3 linked regions of the Homo sapiens genome follow. The protein of the gene in region 1 purifies or fractionates together with the protein of each later gene. This does not show direct contact. Each region holds a gene or a part of one and is shown on either strand. Other genes may lie near its edges.

Region 1 (3,657 bases):
AAGTGGATTCAGCTGCTCAGTTAGGTGTTGTGGAAGTGGATTCGTTGACTTTTCACTGCAGTTTTTCTTTAGGTCTATTCTGCTTAAAAATTATGTTAATTCTTTTTTCTAGGTAGATAATTTCCTAGATTTAGAAGATTTGGACATGGATGAAGAGATTAAACCCCAAATGAGTGAGGGTATGCTTTCTATTTCCTTTCTATACTACCTGACCTCTTTCTAGAAACTACAAATAAGGCTTTAGACAGCTTTCCTGTTTTTGGCAATTCTTACCTCCACCTCTCCTAAGACAGGAAGAACTAAAGTTGTGAGCTATTTTTTTCAGTAACAAAAATTTCACCTGAAAGGTCAAAGCTTTTTGAAGATTGTGAAACCTTTGGTCTTAAATGAAATAAAGATGTGCTCTCCCCCTTAACAATTCATCACAGGATTGATTCTTAGGTAATTGTCTCAAGTGGAGCCATTGTAAGTCAACTCTGTTTCCTAGAGGTACAGTCTTGTAAACTGAAATTATTTTTGAGGGACACATAAAATACCTATTAATCATAAAAATCATAAAAATATCAGAATTGATCACAAAAATAAGGCTGTCTTGCCTGGTATTAAAGGTTACTGAGGCTGAACCAAGTTTCAGTGGATTTGAGTGAACTAATGTCAAGGCCTTCCCACATGTAGAATAAGATGCAAAGCCTAGGCTGAAAATCTATGCAGGCTTCAGTGAACTATTCTAAAGAAAATAAAAGAAAATCCATTTTTTTGCTTTTAAAAATATTTATTATGTAAATTAAACCCTTAATACTAAAGATATATTGTAAATGTTTCTTCTGAGGCATTTTCCACATGGGCTGGATTGAAAAAGGCTTCATGCTAGTCTGTTGATGTTTATTTAGAGGAAAACTTTTTTCTTTCTAGTTAACATTTCTGGATAGGCATAGGTATCCTTTGTTTCTCGAAGGATGTTTGAAATATGTTCAAAATCAGGAAGTTTTTTTTTTTTTTTTTTAAACACTCATTCCTGATTTAACATGCAAGAATATATCAAAGTCAATGCCTAATTTTACAGAAGGGGCAGTTTCCACGGAGGTTTGGTTGTTGATGTTTAACTATTGTTTACTGTCTTTAGGTGGTCATAAACATGTTTTATGGTCATTAGTGTTGGGGGAGGATGGCTTATTTATAATCAGACAGAAGTTAAAGTGACTAGGTAAAGTTGGTTTAGGGATGGTGACTATCTGTACATTGGTTGTATAAACCTCTACTCTAGCTTCTTCAGCTGCTTGAATTTGAGAGGTTTTGGTAATTGGAAGAAATGAACATTTTTATTCTGCTTTCAAGCATCACACTACTCCGTGAAGGGATTGCTTCTCAAGCACACTATTAACCAGCAGATGTTGCAGATTCTTTACTTATTTGGTTTAAGTGAGATCAGAGGTCTAGAGGGATCACATCCTCCAGGGAGAGGTTCTCTAACTTTAATACCCTGAGTGGCTCTGAATTTCTATAATGAGAGCAGCAAAGGGACTCCAGTTGGATTAGAAGGGAGAGCTAAGGACTTGTCAGGAAGCTACATTTGTAGAGGAAGCACACTGTTTTGGGTTTTGGGTGATTTGGGGGAGGGAACCTTGTTAAAAATGCAGATTTCTGGATCTCCCTCCCAATAGAGAATCTAATTCAGAAGGTCTTTGGTGGCATCTGGTGATCTGCATTTTAACCGACACCCCCAATGATTCTAATATAATTAATTTGAGGATAACACGTGGAGACAAATGGTTCTAGTCTGCATGTAATACATATGCAATATAAAATAAATTTCATAAGAGGGCACAAAAGTACATGTTTTGGGTGCTTTTGTGATGGTTTAAATTTTTCACTTCTTACCAGTATGAGAACTCTGTATATTGACATAAACCAACATAGCCAACAGATCTGATTTTTGTTATGTCAATCTTTTTTTTTTTTTGAGATGGAGTCTCACTCTGTCGCCCAGGCTGGAGTGCAATGGCATGATCTCAGCTCACTGCAACCTCTGCCTCTCAGGTTTAAGCAATTCTCCTGCCTCAGCCTCCCAAGTAGCTGGGATTACAGGTGCATGCTGCCATGCCTGGCTAATTTTTATGTATTTTAGTAGAGATAGGGTTTCACTGTGTTGCCCAGGCTGGTCTTGAACTCCTGAGCTCAGGCAATCCACCTGCCTCGGCCACACCCCGCCCCACCGCCCGCCCGAGTGCTAGGATTACAGGTGTGAGCCCCCTCACCCGGCCCGTCAATCTTTTAAATCGCCTTTTTACCTTCTTCAGTATTTTCACATTGTTTTCTTTAAATATTTTTTTCAAGTTACATTTTTCAATTACCAGATTTATTTTAAAATATTGATAAAAACATCTTACTAGTATGATTTTTCCAGAAATCAGATAACAAGCCTTCTTGTATTTGTGTATAAAAGATTACTGAGGCTGAACCAAGACTTGAATGAACTCGTCAAGACCTTCCCACACATAGAATGATGTGTGAAGCCTATGCTGAAAATCAACCTAGGCTTCAGCAATCTATTCTAATTACTGAAAAGGCCACCAGGGCTTTACAATTTTCATAATGCACAATCTGGGTCATTTAAAGGGAAAAGAAATTAAATAGTTGGTGCCAAGGCGAATTTTAGTTTGGGCCTAATTTGTTTTACACTTCAGGAATGTGAGCAGAAGGCAAATATTTATATCAGATGGGAAATGTGACATTTTAAATAGTAAAGTTGCTTGTATAATTTTGGCAGCTGGGAGGTTTACTGATTAGATTCCGTTGTTATTGTTTAAGCAACAGATTTGCTTGGGGCAACAAGGAAGTGGCTTGCATATTGTTTTTCTACCATTGACTTTATTTGTTCACCCCATTCACTCTCATAAATATTCTCTAAGATTTAGGAGCATGATTCTTTTCTAATATTTGTTTTATCACTTGGCAGCCCAGGTGGAAAGATTGGAGATGGTTTTTCAGTGGAGCCAACTCTATTAAGCAATGGTATTAAGCAGTTTTCTGAGGGTAGCGTCTGCCACAGAGTTTGGTGCACTGTGTTTATTTGACATCAAGTTAACCTATTCTTCCTTTTTTGAATTTGAGATAAGGTAGTTAACCTGGTGACTGTCATGCCTCAGACAAACTGGCCCATACTTTTACCCAGCACAATTATTGTTTGGATCAGTTATTAGTTATTGTGCTGAGGACATTAGAATAGGAAGATTTTCTGTTCATCTTTATTTTTATGCTTCCTCGGTGGGCCCAGCCCAACCTCTTTTCTGGTCAAGTGCAAGTAGCTCAAGAGACTTTTTTTTTTTTTTAATCTACTTCTGAGATTCATACTGTCTTACACACATCTCTTGGTCAGCGGGTGTACTTATGGTGTGGCTGATTGTATTGACTGAGAATGGGCACTGATTCCTGCTCAAAGGTTGGCAGCCTTGTTTGATTTTCATTTTCAGGTTCTCCAGTACTGTACTTCTGCCTTAGTCCATTTATGTTGCTGTAAAAGAATACCTGAGGCTGGGTAAAGAAAAGAGGTTTATTTGGCTCATGGTTCTGCAGGCTGTGCAAGAAGCATGGAGCCAGCGTGTGCTTCTGGGGAAGCCAAAGGGGAACCACATGTGCAGAAACTGCATGACGAGAGAG
Region 2 (2,939 bases), on another chromosome or scaffold:
TTATTTGTCCTATCCACTTTTTGTTCAGTTCCTCTTGTCTTGCCTTCTATTTGACTAAATATTTTTTCGTATTTCATTTGATTCTTCTATTGACTTTTTACCTATGTTTTTACAAAATTTTGTACTTGATTAATATCCTATTATATATATACACACACACACAAATATACATATGTACACATTATAAATCCTGTAATACAATGATATAATTTTTCTTTAGTTGTGTCTTTTTAAAGGAAATTATAAAGAAAAAAATACAATGTAGCTTTACATTTACCCACATTTATAATTTCCATGTTATTCTTGCCTGAATCCAAGTTTCCATATGGTATTATTTCCTTTCAGCCTGAAGTACTTCCTTTGACATTTCTTACATGTGCAGGTTTGCTGGTGACTTCTTCTCTGTCTTTATTTTCCTTCATTTTTGAGGATATTTTCGCTTGATATGGAATTCTGAGGTTTTCTTAAAGCACTTTCACGATTGTCTCCAGTATCAAACTTCATTGTTCCCCTGCATTTACTGGTTTCTTTCTGGCTACATTCAAGGAATTCTCTATTTTTGGTTTCCAGAATTTTGACTATACTTGCCTGGGTGTGGTTTTTAAATTTTTTTAACTTGGGATTTTCTAGAATTCTCGAATCTGTATGTTTATATTTTTCCCTCAATTGGGACATTTTGAGACATTATTTCTTCAATCACTTTTTCTATCCCTTTCTGTCTTCTCATTCTGGAACTCCAGTAATATCTGTGTTTGACTACTTGATGTCAAGGTCACTAAAGTTCTTTCCTCTGTCATCTTTTTTTTCTGTTCATATTGGATAATTAGTTTTGATCTATATTCTAGTTCACTGACCTTTCTTCTAAGTAAGTAAAAAAAATTTTTTTTTTTTTTTTTTTTTTTTTGAGACAGGATCTCACTCTGCTGCCTGGGCTGGGGTGCAGTGCCACAATCATCGTTCACTGCAGCCTCAAACTCCTGGGCTCAAATGATCTTCCTGCCTCAGCCTTGCAAGTAGCTATGACTACAGGCATGTGCCACCATACCCAGCTTTTTTTTTTCTTTTTTTTAGACATGGGGTCTCACTATGTTGCCCAGGCTGGTCTTGAACTCCTGGACTCAAGTGATCCTCCCACCTCAGCCTCCCAAAGAAGTGTTGGGATTACAGCTGTGAACCACCATTCCTGGCTTTCTAAAAAAAAAAAAAAAAAAAAAATTCAGATTTTGTCCCAAGTTTATAACTGTTATCTATGGGAAAATTAAACTGCAAGTGGAACCTTGTATTTTTAAAAAACATCCACAGAATCTCTCCAAACACTATCAATCAATCATGGCATTAGATTATGCTTTATACAAAACTTCAAGTAACCAGACCATGGTACATCATAGCTCCTTGCAGATATGTCTTCATTGAGTTATGATTATGCACTATCCTTCAGAAACGTCACTATAGCCAGGCGCAGAACCTGTGGCCATAGTCGCAGCTACTCAGGAGGCTGAGGCATGAGGATCACTTGAGCCCAGGAGCTCAGGGCTCTAGGAGACTATAATCATGCCTATGAACAGCCACTGTACTCCAGCCTGGGCAATGTAACAAGACCCCATCATCTCCTAGGAAAAAAAAAAAGACACACACAAAGTCACTGTAAGCATCCTTATACAGTGAATACTGGTTGAAGCTGTTGTTCACTGGCGTTTAGACAAATATAACTGTTTAATTTCAGGAAAATTTTTTCTCTACAAATTGCTGAGCACTTTGCATTTGTTCTTCCCAGTGAGATGGCTGTTATCATCAGCATCCTTACTTCATTACAAAGGCTCAAGAGCTTACCCACACAATTTTAGTCAGTTGGCAAGGCTAATACTGAAACTTGATGCGGATTACAGTCTAGAGATTTCTAACTTGAATGTTTCCTGTTCCACATTCTAGAAACAGGCAAAAAAAAATTCTTTTTAGTATGTTTGGCTTTATTACTAAATGCCAGCCATTACTTGAAACCCTTCTAGAGGCATGTGTTCTGTTTGTCCTTTCTAGATACAATGCTCCTGAGAAGACAGCATTTTCCACAGGAGGCTGTTTCCTCCCCTGGTGGATTTAAGAGACGGTCCTTTCTGGATACAGAGAAATGAAACAACGGTGACCTCTCCAGGTCGGCACTTTCCACTTCTGTACGGTGGCAAAACGATGACATGTAACCTTGCTGTTTATTGTACTTTGTATATTATTTCCTCTTCAAAGTCTTTCTTACACACTCTATCCTCTGCACTGTTAATAGTAACCTATGACATAATTGTAAATATTCAGCTTTTTGCTAACTTTTGTATTTTGAAAAACTTTAAAATAAAATTGTTGACTAGATATCTGTGACGTTTTTCTGGATTTGGAGACAGAAAAAGAGATAAAGGTAGTTCTGAAGGACATTGTCAAGTTTGAACACAGATGTGAATGGTGTAAAAAGCTTGAAATGAAAAGCTGTTGTTTATACAAATCACAGCTATTAAGCAGAATCAATCAGCCCAGAAGCAAAACATCAAAAATTAGGAAAACCAATCTTGTAAAGAATGAATGAAACTATCAGCTTATATCTATCTGCCGAGTCATTCTACTGCATACTACAGAATTCCCGTCACAAAATTAAGTCATTTGACTTCCCCTGAAAACATACATTGTTTGTTTGGAATCATCTTCTCTGAGGCTGTGTGAAGGTTCTTTTTCCCCATATCACACATACAACACACACCATCTGTACACACACACACACTCTCTCTTGCTCCAAGGGAGTACATACTTCTTCTTCTTTTCCCACATCAGTATATGCTTCCTTGCCATCCAAGGCCAGTCACCAAAGTCTGAGCAGCTGACAGAAATGAGTCAGGGAGTCAACTGTGAATGAATCCGATGATATTATTTTACAGTATGGCCCCAGCAACCTGAGCATT
Region 3 (3,657 bases), on another chromosome or scaffold:
GAGTGCTGCTCACTAGCAGCATCCCGCCACACAAGGCTCCTGAAACGAAGGCTTAACGGCTCAAACTGAGGCTGTGTGTGGCGGCTCACTCCTGTAATCCCAGCACTTTGGGAGGCTGAGGCAGGAGAATGACTTGAGCCCAGGAGTTCAAGAGCAGCCTGGGCGACATGGTGAAACCCCATCTCTACAAAAAGGGGAAAAATTAGCCAGGCATGGTGGCTCACACCTGGGGTCCCAGCTGCTTGGGAGGCTGAGGTGGGAGGATCCCTTGAGCCCAGGAGGTTGAGGCTGCAGTGAGATCTGATGGCGCCACTGCACTCCAGCCTGGGTGACAGAGCGAGACCCTGTCTCAAAAGAAAAAAAAAATCTGTCGGTAGCAAAAAGTAACAGTCTCACGCTGTTACTGGCTGTTACTAGCAGTGTCGCAGGAAAGCGACAGACTTACTTTATTTGTGAAGAAATGTCTGCATGTACCCGAGTCTGAATAACCACGATTTCTTTTTCAGGGATTTTCACAAAAAAAGAAAATGGTGTTCCATTTTTTAGTCGCTTATTTTTTAATTTTAGAGACAGCGTGTAGTCACTTTAAAGTGACCAGCTAATCACTTATTCAGCCGCAGTGTTCTAGCGTTTTCCTCATCCCCACCAACATTTGATCATTCTTTCGAACTGTAGCCATCCTAGGGGGTGAACAGTACCTTGCTGAGGTTTAAATTCACATTTTCTGGATGAGTAGTGATGTGCAGCTCCTTCTCATGTGCTTATTATCCATTTACACACCTTCTGTGAAGGCTTCAAGTCTCTTCTCATCATTTTATTGGGTTTTCTTATTATTGTACTTTTTTTTTTTTTTTTTGGAGACGGAGTCTCACTCTGTTGCCCAGGCTGGAGCGCAGTGGCGCGATCTCGGCTCACTGCAAGCTCCGCCTCCTGGGTTCACGCCATTCTCCTGCCTCAGCCTCCCAAGTAGCTGGGACTACAGGTGTGCATCAGCATGCCTGTAGAGATGGGGTTTCACCATTTGGCCAGGCTGGTCTTGAACTCGTGACCTCAAGTGATCCACCCGCCTCCACCTCCCAAAGTGCTGGGATTACAGGCGTGAGCCACCGCGCCTGGCCGAAGTTCCCTTCTATTCCTTTTTTCCTCTGCTTCTGAAATTCCAATGACTTGTATATACAGTACCATCCCCTAGCTCAACTGATGCTCTTCTTTTCTCCCCCAAGGACTTTTTCTGTTTTTCATTTTAGGGATTTGCCATTTCTGTTGCTTCAAGTTTACCAGCTTTCCTTCTGCAGTGTCTCACTCTGATGGTAATCCCATCCATCTTTTTCATGTCAGTTTTCTACCAGTCAACTTTTTCTACCAGTTTTTATTATTGTTACTTTAAACCTTTTTTCCTGCCTTCTTTTTAGTTGATTTTTTTTTTTTTTTTTTTTTGAGACAGAGTGTCGCTCTGTCGCCCAGGCTGGAGTGCGGTGGTGCAATCTCGGCTCACTGCAAGCTCTGCCTCCCGGGTTCACGCCATTCTCCTACCTCAGCCTCCCGAGTAGCTGGGACTACAGGCGCCCGCCACCACGCCCAGATAATTTTTTTGTATTTTTAGTAGAGACAGGGTTTCACCGTGTTAGCCAGGATGGTCTCGATCTCCTGACCTCATGATCCGCCCGCCTCGGCCTCCCAAAGTGCTGGGATTACAGGCGTGAGCCACCGCACCTGGCCTTAGTGGACTATTTTTTATAATTTCATTTTAGCTATCAGCTTTTTATCTCTACTCCTCTTTGCATTGTATTTCTAGTGTTTGCCCTGGAGATTACCATAAACATACTTACCACACTAGAGTTAGCAGGTAGGTCCATTTCCCACCCGTGTCCCCACCTGTATTTGTCGTATGTGTAACATGTACATGTATTATAAACACAGTATAGTGTTATAATTGTTGCTTTCAACAGTCATATGTATTTTGAAGAAATTAAAAGGAAAGAAATAGTCTTTTACATTTACCTACATATTTACCATCCATTTCTGGTGTTTTTTTTTTTTTTTTTTTTTTTTTTTTTTTTTTTTTTTGAGACAGAGTTTTGCTCTTTGTAGCCCAGGCTGGAGTGGGCAACAAACCTCAGCTCACCACAACCTCTACCCTCCAGGTTCAAGTGATTCTCCTGCCTCAGCCTCCGGAGTAGCTGGGATTACAGGCATGCGCCACCACGCCTGGCTAATTTTGTATTTTTAGGGGAGATGGGGTTTCTCCATGTTGGTCAGGCTGGTCTCAAACTCCCAACCTCAGGTGATCTGCCTGCCTCGGCCTCCCAAAGCGTCATTTCTGGTGTTCTTACTTCTTCCCTATGATTCCGATTTGCATGTGGTATCACTCCTCTTCAGCCTGAGCTCCCTTTAACATTTCTTCTAGTTCAGATCTCCTGATGATGAATTTTCTTACTTTTCGTTAATCTGAAATGTATTTATTTTGCCTGTATTCTTCAAGGTTGTTCTCATCAGATAGAGAATTCTGAGGCCAGGCACAGTGGCTCATGCCTGTAATCTCAGCACTTTGGGAGGCCAAGGTGGGAGGATTTCTTGAGGCCAGGAGTTCAAGTCCAGCCTGGGTAACAAGTGAGACCCCATCTCTGAAAAAAATAGCAAGGCATGGTGGCATGCACCTGCAGTCTTGGCTGCTTGGGAGGCTGAGGTGGGAGGACTGCTTGAGCCCAGGAGGTTGAGTCTGCAGTGAGCTGTGATAGCACCACTGCACTCCAGCCTGGGTGACAAAGCAAGATCCTGATTCAAAAAAAATCCTGATTTGACAGATTTTTTTCCTTTCAGCACTTGAATGTTTTCCCTGTCTGGGCCTCCATTGTTTCTGGAAGAGTCAGCTATGGGCTGTCTGTGGGGCCCTTACATGTCATGTGTCTCTCCATCTCCCACTGCACTGGCTGCTGTCATGACTTTCTTCTTGAATTTGTGTTTCAGCAGTGCGATAATGATGTTCCTAGGTGTTTTCATTGTATTTATCCTGGGCTTTTGGGATCTATATTTGTGTTTTGCCAAATTTGGGAAATTTGCTCTTTTTCTCCTTCTGGGACTCCAATTAAATGTTAGGTCTTCCATATCTAGTAGACACACATTTGTGATTACTGCTCATTATTTTCTTTTTTTCTGTCCTTTGGATTAATTTGTATTTATCTAGACTTTCTTTAGCTATCTTCAATCTGCTGTTAACCTCTCCAGCAATCTTTTTAGAGCTTGTATTTTGCAGCCCTAGAATTTACACTTAGTTCTTTTTATTATTTATTGGCTAAAATTCCCTATTTGTTAATTTGTTTAAAATATATTTTATATTTATATCCTAAAGCAGAGTTGTAACTGCTGCTGTAAAATCTTAGCTACCGGTTCCAATATCTGGGTCATGTAGGATTGATCTCCATTACTTGCCTTTTGAGTATGGGTCAAATTTTCCTGTTTCTTATGTCTAGTCATTTTTTTGTATCATGGACATTGTGGATAATCCATTGTAGAGACTCTGGATTCTGTTACATTCCTCCAAAGAGTATTGCTTTTTTTTGGTTCATTTTATTAGGCAATCACCTTTGCTCAGCTCAGAGCCGAAACTCTTTCCCCTGTGGTGGATAGCAGCTGAAATCCCTGCTTGTAGCGTGAGTT

Evidence for each region.
Region 2: the proteins of IFTAP (region 1) and WDR19 purify together in Homo sapiens (affinity purification with mass spectrometry; 3 studies listed by BioGRID and IntAct, with this or other methods). This does not show direct contact.
Region 3: the proteins of IFTAP (region 1) and IFT140 purify together in Homo sapiens (affinity purification with mass spectrometry; 3 studies listed by BioGRID and IntAct, with this or other methods). This does not show direct contact.

The regions. Positions count from the first base shown.
Region 1 is NC_000011.10:36,635,939-36,639,595, forward strand, and holds part of IFTAP (intraflagellar transport-associated protein), read left to right. Parts: intron 1-112; coding exon 113-179; intron 180-3,657. UniProt on the Homo sapiens protein: Seems to play a role in ciliary BBSome localization, maybe through interaction with IFT-A complex.
Region 2 is NC_000004.12:39,283,453-39,286,391, forward strand, and holds the end of WDR19 (WD repeat-containing protein 19), read left to right. Parts: intron 1-2,034; 3' UTR 2,035-2,358; downstream 2,359-2,939. UniProt on the Homo sapiens protein: As component of the IFT complex A (IFT-A), a complex required for retrograde ciliary transport and entry into cilia of G protein-coupled receptors (GPCRs), it is involved in cilia function and/or assembly.
Region 3 is NC_000016.10:1,514,550-1,518,206, reverse strand, and holds part of IFT140 (intraflagellar transport protein 140 homolog), read left to right. Parts: intron 1-3,657. UniProt on the Homo sapiens protein: Component of the IFT complex A (IFT-A), a complex required for retrograde ciliary transport and entry into cilia of G protein-coupled receptors (GPCRs).